2 separate regions of the Homo sapiens genome follow, and region 1 is linked to region 2. A link means that fine-mapping ties the variant in region 2 to the expression of a gene that starts in the linked region. Tissue or cell type: whole blood. Region 2 holds a variant in brackets; the other region holds the start of a gene. All regions are shown on one strand. Distances are between the middles of the regions.

What was found.
Region 1: it holds the start of CYP26B1, and the variant in region 2 is fine-mapped to the expression of CYP26B1 in whole blood (INTERVAL, PIP above 0.99).

Annotation. Positions count from the first base shown.
Region 1 is chr2:72,146,802-72,149,670 of GRCh38, forward strand. CYP26B1 (cytochrome P450 family 26 subfamily B member 1) reads right to left here and starts at 1,061. Exons shown (of 6, transcript NM_019885.4): 1 at 830-1,061. The coding sequence starts at 1,033. RefSeq lists enhancers at 1-259, 449-950.
Region 2 is chr2:72,208,622-72,211,520 of GRCh38, forward strand. All of the region lies in intron 20 of EXOC6B (exocyst complex component 6B), which reads right to left. Among named protein-coding and RNA genes, the nearest start is that of CYP26B1, 62 kb to the left of the region's middle. The variant A/G (reference allele first, on the strand shown) is at 1,751.

The DNA of each region.
Region 1 (2,869 bases), 62 kb before region 2:
ATGAGGTGAACTCCAGGTTAATCTCCCCATTACCTACCTGGGTCTGGTCCCTGACGCGCCTCACCCCCGTTATCACCAGCAGAGTGGGGTTGTGCGGCATCTAACAAGCACACACGCACTCTCTCTCTATGGATCCCACACTCACCTCTCCCAAGTTTCCCTCTCCTGCCAAACTGTCCCCACCCAATAAGTAAATAGACCCTTTTCCCCGAAAGCCTAGAGCCCTGGATTCTCATTTTTCCTTGGGTTACCTTCTTCCTCTTCCACCACAAAACAGACACACTCGCGCGGACCGCGGACCAGGGACACTGTACCTGGCGCTGCCGACGGCGCCGCAGGAACACAGTTTTAAATCGGCAATTCAAGCTGCCACCAGCCCCCTCCTCTCCCGACTCAATTTTCGGCTCCCAGCGACACAGCCAACCCCAGAAAGCCGAGGGCGACTGGGGGCTTGCAGCACCGAGGGGAGGCGAAAGCGGCTCAGGACCGGACCCTCCCCCGGGACCGCGCCTCGCTAGGCGCCCCCGGGGCGCTCCACGCCCCCTGCCAGGCCAGCCGCGACCCAGGCAAGTCCATCTTGGGAGCCCCCTCAGGTCCGGGAACCCCTCTTACCAGCCCCCTGAACCTGCGCCGCGGGCGCCAGTGGTCCCGGAACCGCGCTGCCGGCGGGCTGGGGAAGCCCGGGCTGCTGCGGCAGAGAGGAGGGAAGGGGCGGGGCGGGGACCAGTGCCTTCAGGCTCCCGGCGCCCCCTGGCCGGCCCGCCGCTCCGTCTGCCCCGCGCTCGCAGCTAGCGGACCCCGGAGTGCAGCGGAGCGAGCGCGCCCTTACCTGCAGCAGCCAGTGGCCGGTCTCTCCGATGAGCGGGAAGCCCATGGATCCCTTGGGGATGGGCAGCTTGCAGCTCTTGTCGCGAGTGGCGGCCCAGCGCAGCTGCCACAGCTGCTGCGACACGGCCAGCAGCAGCGTCACGGACACCAGGCACGCGGCGAGGGTGGCCAGCGCCGACACCAGATCCAAGCCCTCAAAGAGCATGTTGGCGGCCGCTCGGGGGATTGGCTGTGCCGGCCGCGGCGGGGGAGGGGAGGGCCCGACGGGAGGGGACCGGAGCGGCGGGGGAGGGGAGGCTGCGGCCGGGGGTCCTGGCACCTCCAGCCGAAACAGAGAAGGAGGAAGGGGCCAAGGGAAAGGGAGTGGAGGCTGCGAGGGGAGCGGAGAGAGGGAGGAAAAAAATTGCCTAAAAGAAGAGAGGAAACACGAGGCGACTGGGGTGCAACTTTGTTTGTTTGTTTGTTTGTTTGTTCCTTTATAGCGGGCTTAGGGGCTGCTCAAGGGGTGGTGAGATGAAGCCGTGAGTCAAGCTGGTGGGTTTGCTCTCCCCGCTACCATCACACTCGGAAAACTTTGGAAAACTTTGTCCAGAGGGAGCCTCTCTCTCGTAAGCCCCTTCCCCTGCTCGGAAAAAAAGAAGGGGGCAGAGAGCTAGCAGAGAGAAAGTGCGGTCGATTTGTCAAAAGTATTGCAGTATGGCCCCAAAATTCCTAGGTGAAAAAAAGAAAAAAAGAAAAAATTCCTGAATCCAAAAATTCCAACGAACCCAGAAACTTTGGGGGCGAGGGAGAAAGCTCCCTGGCTGAGGCGAGTGGAGAGGCCGGAGCCTAAAAGTCCCTGGGCTGCCCGGGGCGGCGCGCTCGAGCCCCAGAGCCGCCGCAGCACCCCCGAGGCAGGAGCGGCGGGCGAGGCGGCGAGGCGGGCGCTGCGGCCCGAGCGCGGGTGCGGAGCCGGCGGGCCGCGGCCGGGACGGGACGCAGCCGGCGACAGAGCCCCGGGCGGGCGATGGGGCGGCGGCGGCGGCGGCGGCGGCGGCGGCGGCGGCAGCGGGCGGGAGGGGTGAGGCGGGGTGGGGTTGGGGGAGGAGGTGGAAAACCCGAGCTGGGCTATTGTATCAATTAAGAAAAGGCAGTCCGTCCCGGGACGCGGTCTCTCGGCTCTGGAGTTGCTGCTGGGGGAAGAAATGGGGAAAAAAGAAAGGAAGGCAAAAGGAATGAAAGAGGGGGAAAAGCAGGAGGCAGGATTTCAGGGCTGGTGGTTTTAAAAGCTTCTCTCAATGTGAATTTGAGTCCAAAGCGAGGCGATGCGTGTGTTTATATAGAGGCGGGAGGCTGCGCCGTGGGCGCCCCGCCAGCACCCCCCCGCCCCAACCCGCGCGCTCACAAAGCCGGAGGCGTGGTGAGAGGCCGGGCCCGCGGCCGGAGCTGGAGAGCGCAGCCCGGCCTCCCGCCCCGCCCCGGCCGCCCGCCGCCCGCCGCCCGCAGCCCGCCCGGGACCCACTTGTAGCCGCCGCAGGATCAAACTCAGTTCACCTCTCGCCTCCTCTTCTTTCTCGCCGGCGTCTCGCTGAGCCCAGCGCCTACAGACGGACGAGATGAGACACACGCGCGCGCACCTACGCGCACACACACACAACACACACGCGCACACACACAACACACACACCTCCGCACACACGGTGCGCACTCGCTTAGTGCCTGCTTGGCTTCTAGGCTCCTTCCCTTCCTCTTTTCCTCCTTCCCAGGTCAGCGGTCCCCTCCTCCAGCTCCGAGCAGTCCCTCCTGGGCCGAAGCCCCGGCAGCGGAGGTCCTGGCCGGACTGCCCCCTCGACTGGCAGGCGCCCAAAGCCCTCGAAACTGTGCCTTAGGGTCCCGAGCTTCCAACCCCCGGGATCCCGCTGGCTCTTATCTCCAGGGACCCCTGAGTTACCAGTCCCAATCCCCCTAAGCCAGATCCCCCATTCCCGATCCCTATATCCTCACACCTCCGATGCTAAGGTCCGCCCCCGCCATATGTCTCTTACCCTACGGAACCTGGAGG
Region 2 (2,899 bases):
AAATGGGAGCTCTGTTTTAAGTTCAGGTCTCATCTTAACCCTTTTCTAGAACCTAAGATCCAGCCCTCTGCCTCAGAATGAAACCCAGGGTACCTGCACCCTTTACCTCAAAAACACCAGTTCCAAAGAGCTCTCTTGTATTCTCTTACTAGAAATCTTCCAATGTCACTAAGCATTAAGAAACTCCTTTTCTGTGGATTTTAACCTTACAATACAGCTTTTTCTCTCTACTTTCTAGAAACTCTTACATCAAATGAATACATAGGCAAGGAGTTACAGATACAATCTTGTTACCATAAGTAGTTTGAAATATTTAATCTTGCTGGGCACGGTGGCTCATGCCTGTAATCCCAGCACTTTGGGAAGCTGAGGAGGGTGGATCACCTGAGGTCAAGAGTTCAAGACCAGCCTGACCAACATGGAGAAACCCCATCTCTACTAAAAATACAAAACTAGCCTGGTGTGTTGGCGCATGCCTGTAATCCCAGCTATTCTGGAGGCTGAGACAGGAGAATCGCTTGAACCCGGGAGGCAGAGGTTGTGGTGAGCTGAGATCGCGCCATTGCACTCCAGCCTGGGCAACAACAGCAAAACTCAGTCTCAAAAAAAAAAAAAAAAAAAAAAAAGAAAAGAAAAGAAAAGAAAAGAAAAAAGAAATATTTAATCTTACTTAGTTGTCTCTCCCTTCATTAACTGTGAGCATTTACCAGGACTGAACAAGTAAAAGTCCCTTAGCTGTTTCTATCCTGCTCCAATAAAATCTTCTTTCTTAAATTTTCAGGTTTCTGAGGCTGAGGTGGGAGGATGGCTCGAGCCCGGGAAGCAGAGATTGCAGTGAGCCAAGATTGTGCCACTGTACTCCAGCCTGGGCAACAGATCCAGACCTTGTCTCCAAAAATTTTTTTTTCAGGTTTCTAAAGAAGCAAAGCTCAGACTTCCCTAAAATTCTTTATCTTAGCACCCTCCTCTGCTAATAGGAAGTGTGAGCATCTCATTCTATTAGAAACTACATGTGTTTCAGCCAAACACCCAGTGCAGACCTATGCTTATAGCAGAAAAAAACAAATGGCTCCTTTAAAAACTGGGCTTTTGTTACATTTCTGATCACTATAGCATTTTTTGCTTAAGTAAAGGCTTACAGCTACATCAGAGAATTAGTGTTGTAACTCATCCTGCGTGTGTCAAAATCAAGGCTAGGGTGCTGAAAATACAACTGTGCATATTTGAATACACTCTTACTTACCAAGGACAATCATCAAGGCAGACTCTTTCTTAAAATTAATGGTATTTAAATTTGGTCCTCAGTGATAAGATTTTTATGTTGTTGCTTTTCACATTCAAATATGATGCACCTAATGATGCTGCTACACATGGATTATGCAGGCATAATTTTTAAAAAAGAATTATAAATACTAAGACTTTCTTTTGGTGGGTATCTGTAGCTGCCATGTGTAGGGTGTGCTGATCTTTTGGGTCCTAAACCTTTGCTTGCTCTCAGCCTCCTCCCTAGTCTCCCCTGATTTGTCTCCAAACACTGTTTTTTAGGCATCTACTCAATCAACCTTCATTGAGTATTTTCTCTGATTTACTGTCATGCAAAACGCTGTGAGGACTCTTAAGAAAGGAGAAAATACAACCTCTTCCCTCAAGGAATTTACAATTAATTAAGGAGCCAGATCCACATATTTAAGTCAATCGAAATGCATTTTTATGGACGGCATATTGCTAACTTTCCATTAATCCTAAACAA[A/G]ATGAACACGTCAATGTGAAGTACGGTAGGGATCACCACAGAAAGTTTAGAAGGAAGAGCAGCAGACAATAATATTTTGTTCATACTGGATAGCTGGATACCCATTTCCCAGCACAGTACCAGACACAACAGATACTCAATAAATGTAATGAACTGCCCCCTCTCCTGACCTGCCATCTATTTCAAAGCTAAGGGACTAGGTGTTTTCCAGGATACCTACCTTCCCCAAAGGGCCCCTGAGTCATTACAATCTCCAGAAGGTTGTACAGTTTTCTGGCAGCTATCCCAAAGGGGGCTGTGCCTCATCTTACAAGTCAGTGTGTCTACTTCTCCAGGCACAGTGCCCGTGGAAGCTTGGTTTGCACTTTGTTTTTCTTGTGGGCAGCAGCAAGGTGGGATTACAGGTCTTCAGTGGTGAGGTGGAAACTTTGGAATCCTTGCCCTTGTTTCCTCAGCAAAGCACACATACATCCCAAAAGGTCAGTCGGCTGTGGACTCTTGGATATTATGGCTGAGTTACAAGAGAACAACCCTTGTTTACAAAGGCATTTCTTCAAAATGTTTTTGCTTGGCACTTATTTTAGGGTGCTGATTAGCCTGAGTTAAATGTTATCTGTAGAAGGTGAAGCACCACCTCCGGTTCCCTCCAGGCAGCCACAGCTTTCTCCAGCTGGGGTTGATTCAGGAAAGTATTAGCAATTTTACCCTCTTCCCTCTCAACCTGAAATGCATCCTATCTTCACTAACTGCCTGGGCGCCTGCAACCTGTAAGACTCATTCCTCAGTGGACCAGTTTCCATGTGCCCTTGCAGAGACTCAGTTAGTGACGTACTGACAGGTGATCCTAGAAAGTCATATTTCTGGACACAATTTCTCCAAAAAAATGAAGTTTTTGGACTAATTGATTTCCAAGGGCCCTTTTCCAGTTCTGAAACTTACTTTCTATTAATAAATGTTCCATATTCTCCAATGAGAGACTGAGGTGAGAAAATGGGCCCTCCTCTTCTGCTAGAGCTGTACTGTCAGGCAAAGGAAAGCCTTGGGAGAAGTCTGGTATAAGCTCAGGACTAAGGCTGGGCCCTGTTTTTTCTGCACATGCACCTTTACTCACTCACCATTTAATGAATGCCTCCATGTACCCAAGACAAC